Linked DNA regions of Homo sapiens: region 2 is linked to region 1. Evidence: fine-mapped expression QTL. A gene starts in region 1. The other region holds a variant in brackets. All regions are shown on one strand. Distances are between the middles of the regions. Region 1 holds the start of FAM133B (family with sequence similarity 133 member B). Region 2 overlaps PEX1 (peroxisomal biogenesis factor 1).

Region 1 (5,384 bases):
CCTGTGTTTGAATCCCCAGCTTCTCTGCTTTCTTGCTGTGGAAGCTGGCACAAATTACTCGGCTTCCCTTCGCCTCGGTTTTTCTCATCCACAAAATGGAATGTAATCTCCTGGTTATGCCTAGAACATTCGGGAGGGCATGTAGGCCCACTGCTAGGACAGAAATGTATTTATTAGCAGATCACACATGTGCAGAGAATGTGTAAAGATTTCTACTGTCACTGAATTATATCCTGAGAAGTCTTGGACTGATTTGTTCTTTATGTAGTCCACTCAGATGAGCTCCCGATAGCTCTTGCCATCTTCCTTATCTTCACAGGCCCCTGGTCATTTTCTTGTTTCTCTGTCCCCCCAGGGATTCACGTTTCATCCAGGAGGGGTTGTGTACACTCGCAGAGAGAGAGAGACTTCTAAAGGAAACACAACCTTTCTGTTGACTTATACCATATTTTTAAAAATCTCTGTGTTCTGTACAATCAGCCAACCAAGGAAGTGAAAGGTAAGAAGGAGCTGAAGAGGGAAAAAAAAAACTATATTCTCTCACAGGTATTATCATGCTTATCATGTTGGAGTATTAAAAATAATATCTGTCAAATGCCTAGAATATTTAAAACATGAAAAATAAGCCAGGAAAGAAAGAATAACTTAATATTAATAGGTTCTCCTCTTCCTCTTGTGTATAAAAAGAAGCCTGTCTTCAGTCAGAGTCCCCAGCTTAAGTCGGGGGTAATGGAGGAGGAGGAGAAATGAGAGACTGGAGGCCTCATTTTGGAAAGTGGGTTACTGAGGAAGAATCAACACTTAGTAGGGAGCAGAACCACCAAGGACTGCATGTGAGAGTTTGGAAAAGTTTTGAGACAGAAGATGGTAGTTGGGAGCATCTGTCATATAGTGTAGCATGAAAAATGCAGGGAGGGAGGGAGGCAGAGATCGGGAAAGATGATTTTAAAGCATGTTCTTGTATGTAATTAGTGTAATTCCCATTTTGCCATTTCCAAGAGTCCGGAGAAGATCCTAATTGATTTTCAACTACTTCCTAATGATACTTGCTAAGATGAACCCAGAGGGGTCGCTTTATCTATAAATACTTACTAAATATGATTATCTTCTCTGGAGCCCAGATCATCTTCCTTAAAGTTGCAGTGCAGTAGTGCCAATATTACGATATGCTATGCAGTAAAGTTGGCCCTGTGTGTGTTTATTGCCCTTACGAGTTTATAAACAGGCTCCTTGACGATAGGGATTTTTCTTAATCATCTTTGTGCCCTACCCAGCTCCAGCTTCCAGCCACCCAGTTAGTGAAAACTGTACAAACTACATGTTCAAAAATTAGTGTGAAATGAATGCACAGGTGATGAATGAATGGGATTGAAATTAAAGGGTGATTTCGTTAGCAGCGTCTATGACAGCACTGCCTTTCCCCCCACCAGCTGATGGGCTCCGTGAGGGACCAAGGCTCTTTGGTCCTCACTTTGTCCCCAGCACTTGCACTCTGTCAAGCACAAAATAAGCATCGGGAGAATCTTTGTGTCCCCTCGAATGAGTATTTCAGTGTATCAAGAATGGAAGAAAGGCCAAGCGCAGTGGCTCATGCCTGTAATCCCAGCACTTTGGGTCGAGGCGGGCGGATCACTTGAGGTCAGGAGTTATAGACCAGCCTGGCCAACGTGGTAAAACCCTGTCTCTACTAAAAATACAAAAAATTTAGCCCGGCGTGTTGACGGCCGCCTGTAATCTCAGCTACTCGGGATGCTGAGGCAGGAAAATCGCTTGAACCCGGGAGGTGGAGGCTGCAGTGAGCCTAGATCGTGCCACTGCACTCCAGCCTGGGCGACGGAGCGAGAGTCTGTCTAAAAAAAAAAAAAAAAAAAAAAAAAAAAAAAAGAATGGAAGAAAGCAAAACAATCCAAGGCCAAACTGAAGCGAGCTGCCTTGGTGGGGCTCCGGTGCAGAAGCGCAGCGTCGCCTGCTCTTGGGTGCCTAATGAACGACCGGACTCCTGCAGGCGCTCCGCCAACTGCAGCGATCTCTGGAGCCGGCCTGTCCTCCACAGAGATAGGGGGCGCTGTAGCAGAGCGCGGCCGTCGAGTCCGCGTGGTGCCGCTCTCTAGGCGGAGTGGGGAGGCGGCAAGAGGACCTGCGGCAGGCCCTCTTCGGCAGTCTCTCCGGCCCGGTTTCCCTCGGCGTGCTACTGTGCGCTCGATCCAGCACCATGGGGAAGCGGGACAATCGGGTGGTGAGTACTCAGCCGGGAAAACAGTGGGGCGACGCAGGGCCCGGCGGCAGGACAGCGAGAACCCTCGCTGTTCCCGGCCGGGCCGGAGGGCAAGCGGCAGCCCTCAGACGTGGGGCCTGGAGACCCAGCACCCTCCGCCGATCCCAGATGCGCGTGCGCCGCGCACGCAGTTGGCGCTTTAGGGTTCCCAGCTCTCTCTTGCCCGCCCCTTTTTTCTTCCCTCACCTCGTCGCTCTTTCTGGCGCTGCTGGTTTGCACTCTTGCCTGCTGTACGCGGGCCCCCAGTGCCCACTTAGAACCGCGAGGGCTCGGGGAACCCCCCCCACACCTGGCCCCGCCATGTAACTCCGAAGACTTAGGCCCTTGGACGCATCCGACTCACCCGCCCCTTGGTATCGGCCGCCCCAGGTCCGCACCCCTCTCCTGCGCACCCAAGTGGGAGGGAGGCACAGAGGCCTCGACGCGGTCCCTGTGCCGGAGAGCCAGCAGCGCGCCTGGTTTTAGCGACAAGCAGGCTCCCGTTTGAAAATGGGATGGCAGCATTTGCTTTCGTGTCTCCAGCGCCCTGTAGGACCTGGCCCCCATAGACACTGTGAGGGAATGAATGGCGTGAAAATAGTTGGCTTTCGAGTCCAACACAAAACTGGAATGTCAGTTTTGTTCCGTCGGAAGTTGGGTGACCTAGAACAAGTTACTTTTCTTCTCTGTGCCGTCGTTTATAAAAGGGGATCATTATTATCTACAACCTTACAGATTAATTGAAATCACAAAAGGCAAGATGTGTGAGCGAGTACTGGGCATGAAAATTATTACTCTAGTGAATGAGATAAAAGAGATGCATAAATAACTTACAGCAGAAAGAGTAGGAAATGGTCCTTGATAGTTGTTAGAGATTCTAAAGGCATTCAAAAGAAAAGGTGCTTTTGAGAAGCGGAGATGGGAGGAAAGTATTCTAGACCGCTGGGGCGGGGAGGGGGCTGAAAAACTCAGGTTATGAATCAGATTGAATGAGTAGTAAACATAATGAAATAACAATAAGCTTAGGTTGCAGCCTGACAATTTCTGGGCTTGCCTGTGACAAAGTTTTAGCCACTGAGTAGCAAAATGAGGAAAATGCACGTAAAACGAATGTGCTACGTTTCTTGAACTCGCTTTTTTATTCAACAATTATTTGCAAGCTGTGTGTGTCTCACACCAAAGGAGACTTAACATTTACGAAATGATGACACTTGCCATCTGTAGTAGCCAGTTCTTGCATGGCTTTTATAAAGAAAAACCTGAGGCTGGGTAATTTATAAAGAAAAGTGTTTAATTGGCTCACGGTTCTATGGGCTGTACAGGAAGCTTAGCGGCATCTGCTTCTGGGGAGGCCTCAGGGAGCTGTTACTCATGGTGGAAGGCAAAGCAGGAGCAGGCGTCTTACATGGCAGGAGCGGGACCAAGAGAGGGACGGGGAGAGTTGCTACACAGTTTTAAACAACCGCATCTGTTGAGAAATCATCTCTATGCAGTGCTGGGGAGAGGAGGATGCTAAGCCATTCATGAGAACTCCGCCCCCATGATCCAGTCACCTCCCACCAGGCCCCACCTCCAACATTGGGGATTACAATTCGACATGAGATTTGGGCGGGGACACAGATCCAAACCATTTCACCATCTTAAAAACTTTGTAGTTCTGTATAGTCTTTATAATGGAAAATGTCTAGGAACCACTGTGGTAGTGAATCTTGATTACAAGATAGCGGGTTGTTCTTTCTCCTGGCTGTAGGTGAGACTTTGTTGTGCTATCTTGATTGTCATGGCGTTGAAATTATGTAGCATAACACCATTTCAGCATAGGAGCATCCTTAGGTGTTTGAGTATTTTGGGCTCTTCTAATACCCTTGGGCCTTGAATGTTTAGAGATCACCTGACCTTGGATGCAGTTTCATATACAGACCTAAAATGTTTCATATTACTGAAAAAACGTTTTGGTTGAAACATTCCTCTAAAACATTTGAAAAACTTACCAAATTAGCTTCATTTACTAGAACATTTTGATAGCTCTGGGCTCTACTTACTACTTTTGGTATGCAGCTATGGCACAGAGTATTCTGGTAACATTTTGTGTGCACTTCAAAGATTGGGATTAAGAACAAGAAATTAAGAGGTAGAAGACACGGATTGTCTAATTCAGTCTCCTCATTGCATAGAGGAGGGGTAAGACTTTAAACTGGGACCAAAACTTCAGTCATCTGACACTCAATTCTGTACATCTTAACTCTTGATTTTCTTTTTAAGACTTTTTTTTTTAAGCATTTTTAGTTTTACAGCAAAATTGAGAGGAAGGTACAAAGATATCCCGTTTACCTCCTGACCCCACTCGTGCATAGCCTCCCCATTATGAACATCCTTCACCAGAGTGGTACATTTGTTAAAATTGATGAACCTACATTGACATGTTACTATCATCCAGTCAGTAGTTTACATTAGTGCTCACTCTTAGTGTTCATTCTCTATGGGCTTGGACAAATAAATTTATTTATTTATTTATTTAGACACAGTATCTCACTCTTGCCCAAGCTGGAGTGCAGTGTCGCCATCATGGCTCACTGCAGCTTCAACTTCCCAGGCTCAAGGGATGCTCTCACGTCAGCCTCCCAAGTAGCTGGGACCACAGGTGTGTGGAACCACACCTGGCTAATTTTTTGTTGTTTTTTTGTAGAGATGGGGTTTCACCATGCTGCCCAGGCTGGTCTCAAATTCCTGGCCTCAAGCAATCCTCCCGTCTCGGCCTCCAAAAGTGTTCGGATTACAGGAGTGCCACCACATGCGTTCACCAATATAGTATCATAAAGAGTAAAAATCCTCTCTTCGGCCTAGCCATTCCTCTACCACCCCTGTCCCCAAGTGTGGCAACCACTGATCTTTTTACTGACTCCATAGTTTTGCCATAACACTTGATTTGGAGCAACAAAATGAATATTTGCTTGTGAAAATATTGGCATTTTTTGAGATTGTCTCAAAAACAGTTCCTGTTCTTTCTTACATTGATGAAACAATCATAGTTTTAAAGATGATAGGATTGCTTTCCAAAAAAAGCCCCAGTGAATTTCAGGTTGAACAGTTTTTTTAATTTTTATTTTTAGAGCAGTTTTAGGTTCACAGC
Region 2 (5,384 bases), 83 kb after region 1:
TCATAAAATTGAAGATACTCTAGTCATTTAGAATTTCATTGTTTTGGAACTAGACATTGTTTCTTTATTTTTGAAATGTTATTGAAGGAATACCATTTGGAGAAGATACAAATGTAAGAATTGTGAAAAGGATAATTGTGACACAAATCAAAATTATAGATAAAAATATACCTGTAAAATGTATTAAGGCAATAACATTCTTTCTGCTTGTTGACCATAAATATTTATATTCCCTGGATGGGTACATTGTTATTGTCAAGGGTGTTTAAATAATGATCTTGCATGCATAATTTATTCTCTCTGGTATAACAGAATCAGCAATTTAGTTTTCTGGGACCCGAGAAAAACATGCAAAAGACATACTTTGAAATGTAAAACTGATTTTTCCTTGCAACTGTAGGTCCTTCTAGATCCTATGGTAAAAGAAGAAAACAGTGAGGAAATTGACTTTATTCTTCCTTTTTTAAAGCTGAGCTCTTTGGGGTAAGAAGTTATGGCCAAACTAGCATGTTAGACATGTTTTTAACACTATATCTGGCAGAGTTTTCAATGTAAATATTAAAGTAGATGTTAATGTCAATAAGTGATCTTAATAATGCATCAGTAGATATTTTTTCAAGGATTGTCTCTATCTTCACGCCTAGCTTATAATTTGCCTTGTCGTCTTTTTTTTTTTCTCTTTATTTTTATGTTTTTATCCATCCCTGGTGGTAGGGGATAACCTTGTCTTCTTCGATAACAAGAAGTCTGAAGCTTATTAGAAATTTTACTTTGAGAATTGATCGATGAGAAGAAAGCAACTAGATATCACGTGGATCATATATGCTTGAATAAAACAATAATTCTTAGAACAAATAAATACATTTTAAAAGTTAAAGCCAAAAACATTAGTTGAATGTTTAAAAATATTTCAAATTAAGTTATTCCTTCACTGTCTTGTATTACTGTAATAATTTGGATTATTTGTGTTTTTCTCAACTTTTAAAACAAATATTTAAAAAATTCCTCTTTTGATTAAGTAGGGCTAGATAAAATATAAAAAATATTTTTTAAACTCCTCTTAATTTCCATATTTCTTATATAATATGAGAATCTCTTATAAACACTACCTCTTAGAAGTCTCCACAGAAGCTTTGGTAGATGTAGTAGTAGGGATTTGATTTCTTAGAATGGTATAATCTGTAAATGTTTTAGTAAAAGGATTAAACGATAAAGTCAAAATGTTTATAGCACAGTGTTTATTAATATAAAATAAAATCTCTTTTTTTTTTTTTGAGATGGACTCTCACTTTGTCACTCAGGCTGGAGTGCAGTGTTGCAATCTCAGCTCATTGCAACCTCCGCCTCCTGGGTTCAAGCAATCCTTCCGCATCAGCCTCCTAAGTAGCTGGGATTACAAGCATGCACCACCACACCTGCCTAATTTTTTGTATTTTTAGTAGAGATGGGGTTTCACCATGTTGGCCAGGCTGGTCTCAAGTGATCCGCCTGCCTCAGCCTCCCAAAGTGCTGGGATTACAGGCGTGAACCACTGTGCCCAGCATAAAGTAAAATCTCTTCAGACTCTCATGTGATCATGTAAAGTGGCAGGCAGTCACAGTCAAGAAGTAGTTTAAAGTTCATGTTTGTAAAATATAATCTACAGATTGATACTGGATTTCATAGGTAATGTTTAAGAGAAAATAAGTTTTTAGTTATCCTCAGTACTTCAAAAGCACCCATTTATGATTATGTTGATTACTAAACTAAATCATTTGGGGGCTAGAGGTGTTTTTTTATGTGTTAAGATTCCTTAAGGAGTTCTATTAGGGCAAAACTTTTAGTAACTGCATATTTTAAAAGTAATAAAACTAATTTTAAAAGCTTGGAGGCTGGGCGCGGTGGCTCACACCTGTAATTCCAGCACTTTGGGAGGCCAAGGCGGGTGGATCACTTGAGGTCAGGAGTTTGAGACGAGCCTGAGCAACATGGTGAAACCTTGTCTCTACTAAAAATACAGAAATTAGCCAGGTGTGGTGGTGGGCACCTGTAATCCCAGCTACTCGGGAGGCTAAGGCAGGAGAATTGCTCGAACTTGGGAGGCAGAGGTTGCAGTGAGCCGAGATCATGCCACTGCACTCCAGCCTGGGTGACAGAGCAAGACTCCGTCTCAAAAAAAAAAAAAAAAAAAAGCTTGAAGTCAGATTCGACATTAATCAGTATACTTTCTCTCAAGTAGGGGACAATTTCTAAGATTTTAGTCTTTTAAAATTTATTAACTAGTCTGAGCATGGTGGCTTGTGTCTATAATCCCAGCACTTTGTGGGGCCGAGGCAGATGGATCACTTGAGCCCAGGAGTTGGAGACTAGCCTGGGCAACATGGCAAAACCCCGTCTCTACAACAAATGCACACACAAAAAACCCAATCAGCTGGGTGTGGTGTTACACTCCTGAAGTCCCAGCTACTCGGGAGGCTGAGGCAGGAGGATCACCTTTGCCAGGGCGTTTGAGGCTGCAGGGAGCTGGGTTCACACCACTGCGCTCCAGCCTGGATGACACAGCAAGCCCCTTTCTCAAAAAAAAAAAGATAAAAAATTAAATTAAATTAATTAACTACACTGGGAAGGCAAAATTCAGCATTTTTTTATAGCTAAATTTTATCCTGCTTCAGTCTTTTATCATGTAACTATGTATATTTTTTACAGAGGAGTGAATTCCTTAGGCGTATCCTCCTTGGAGCACATCACTCACAGCCTCCTGGGACGCCCTTTGTCTCGGCAGCTGATGTCTCTTGTTGCAGGACTTAGGAATGGAGCTCTTTTACTCACAGGAGGAAAGGTAAGTGGTTAAGGTGTGTTCATTTTTCTGTAACATTTAATAACTTTTCATTTATCTTTCTTTGGGTTTTGACCATCTATTATATAGGGTGGGTTTTGACCATCTATTATATAGGGTTTATACGACATATGGAAAGCATTCATTTATTCACTAATATTTCTGTGTGTCTGCTTTTAGGTGTTGGGGGAGTGATGACGAATAAGACTGATGTTCTCCATGCCCTTTTTCTGTGTC[A/G]GTTGATACAATTATATGGTTTTTCTTTTTTAGGCTATTAGGTGTTGATAGGGTTGAGTAACTTACAAATGTTGAACCAGCCTTGCATACCTGTGATAAATACCACGTAGTTGTGGTGTATCATTCTTTCTACATTGCTGAGTTTTATCTGCTAATGTTCTGTTGAGCTTTTGTCCATTTAAGTTTGAAAGTGATTAGTTTGCAGTTTTCTGTTTTTGTGTTGTCTTTGTCTGGTTTTGCTATCCGTGTAAATCTGGCCTCATAAAATGAGATGGGAAGTATTCTCTCCTCTTCTTTTGTTTTTTTGGAAGAGGTTGTATAAAATTGAGGCTGAATCTTGGTGGTTGCCACAATGACAGGAACTATTTCTGTGACTGAATATATTGGGAATTCCTATAAAGCAATTATTTTCTAGGGAAGTGGAAAATCAACTTTAGCCAAAGCAATCTGTAAAGAAGCATTTGACAAACTGGATGCCCATGTGGAGAGAGTTGACTGTAAAGCTTTACGAGGTATGAGTATGGTAACACTCTATATAAATCCCTTTTTCATTAGAAAGACAGGAATGTTATACATAATGCTGTCAATCTAATAAATACACATATCATCTAGTCTTTAACTTTTCTGTTTATCATTTAGTCATTAAAATTTCTTTGGCTTTCTAATGTTTTTGATAAAATTTCTAAAACTCTCCATATTTAATGGAGGCCTATTTTTTTTTCTAGCCAGAACTTTTTGTAGACTACATTTCTGGAAGTGCTCACTGACACCACTCTGAAAAATTAGTACTTAGAATATACTCTAATTGGTATAAATGATCTCTGAATTGCTATGGAAAACTGGGAGAATGGTTGCTTCAGGGGAGAGAAAGTAGGAGGCTGTGGACAGCAATGAGGAGAATTACAGTTCACCATATAACACTTTTGTACTTTTAAAGTCCTTAACATTTACATTATTATCTATTCAATTAAAAAATATTGGGAAGATTTTACTTTGAACAGTTAATTTTTCCCCCATGGGTACCGCTGTCATATAGTTCCAACTAATCATGAACTTGTGTATTTCCTGTTCTTTGTAAATTTAAACTTTGTAACTCACCAGGAAGTTTGAAGCCAAATTTGTGTTTCAAATATAGCAACTCCAGGATCTCTAGGCAGATGCATTTGCATTTGATTTTAAATGAATCTTGATCCCTTACTCTCACTTATGTTTTCCCACATCCTACTTTTTTTATTTTGTTGTAAGCCATCTAAAATTCTCAATGGGATGAAACTGGGTATAAATGAATACATGCATACAGGAATTATAGTAGCATATTCCTTTTCTTTTTTCTTTTTTTTTTTTTTTGAGACAGAGTCTTGCTCTGTAGCCCAGGCTGGAGTGCAGTGGTGCGATCTCGGCTCACTATAGCCTCCACCTCCCAGGTTCAAGCAATTCTCGTGCCTCAACCTCCCGAGTAATTGGGACTACAGGTGCATGCCACCACACCTGGCTAATTTTTGTATTTTTTAGTAGAGATGGGGTTTCACCATGTTGGCCAGGCTGATCTCAAACTCCTGACCTCAAAGTGATCTGCCTGCCTTGGTTTCCCAAAGTGCTGGGATTACTAGCATAAGCCACTGCACCTGGCCTCCTTTTCTGAGTTTTATAAAATTTGATACTTTACTGCACGCTTTGAGACTGTATTAATTGAACCATGTTGATGAACAAGTTTTTGTGATGGGTATATTAATAAAATATAGATCAAATTTTTATAGTTAAATCAATATCGAGCTTTTCTAGTGCTTTCAAAAGGACAACCTGAATTTTCCCAGCACTGAAATGATACTGAAACCATTTCATATCTTCTGTATTAAGGAAAAAGGCTTGAAAACATACAAAAAACCCTAGAGGTGGCTTTCTCAGAGGCAGTGTGGATGCAGCCATCTGTTGTCCTGCTGGATGACCTTGACCTCATTGCTGGACTGCCTGCTGTCCCGGAACATGAGCACAGTCCTGATGCGGTGCAGAGCCAGCGGCTTGCTCATGGTAAATGCATCCACCACTGGCTTAAGGTCTTGTTCTTTTGTCAGTCAGCATTTTTAGTCTTAACAATAAATCTACTCTCTTCAGAGAATAATATATGTGTTATGTTAAGTGTTGTGTTTGAGGCCCCTGATGGCATTCTACAGTTGTCCTATAGACTGTAATAGCAAAATTGGTAGAGTAAAAACAGTGTGAAAATTCTGCAACTTCATGGTTAGTCCTTTAGGGTTTTTCATTCTCCCTTACTTATTGTTTAATTTACAGATTTACTCTTTTGTTCATTTGACAAATATTTGTCAAATGCTTG

The links. PIP is the estimated chance that this variant, and not a neighbour inherited with it, causes the effect.
Region 2: its variant is the best candidate, but not a certain one, in a credible set for the expression of FAM133B in whole blood (INTERVAL, PIP 0.67).

What each region holds. Positions count from the first base shown.
Region 1 is chr7:92,587,120-92,592,503 of GRCh38, reverse strand. It overlaps FAM133B (family with sequence similarity 133 member B), which reads left to right and starts at 2,114. Exons shown (of 11, transcript NM_152789.4): 1 at 2,114-2,236. The coding sequence starts at 2,213. LOC105375397 (a long non-coding RNA gene) reads left to right here. Exons shown (of 3, transcript XR_927744.3): 3 at 356-484. RefSeq lists enhancers at 1,957-2,236, 2,327-2,386.
Region 2 is chr7:92,504,428-92,509,811 of GRCh38, reverse strand. It overlaps PEX1 (peroxisomal biogenesis factor 1), which reads left to right. Exons shown (of 24, transcript NM_000466.3): 9 at 401-483; 10 at 2,686-2,818; 11 at 3,468-3,564; 12 at 4,910-5,080. Among named protein-coding and RNA genes, the nearest start is that of PEX1, 21 kb to the left of the region's middle. The variant A/G (reference allele first, on the strand shown) is at 3,053.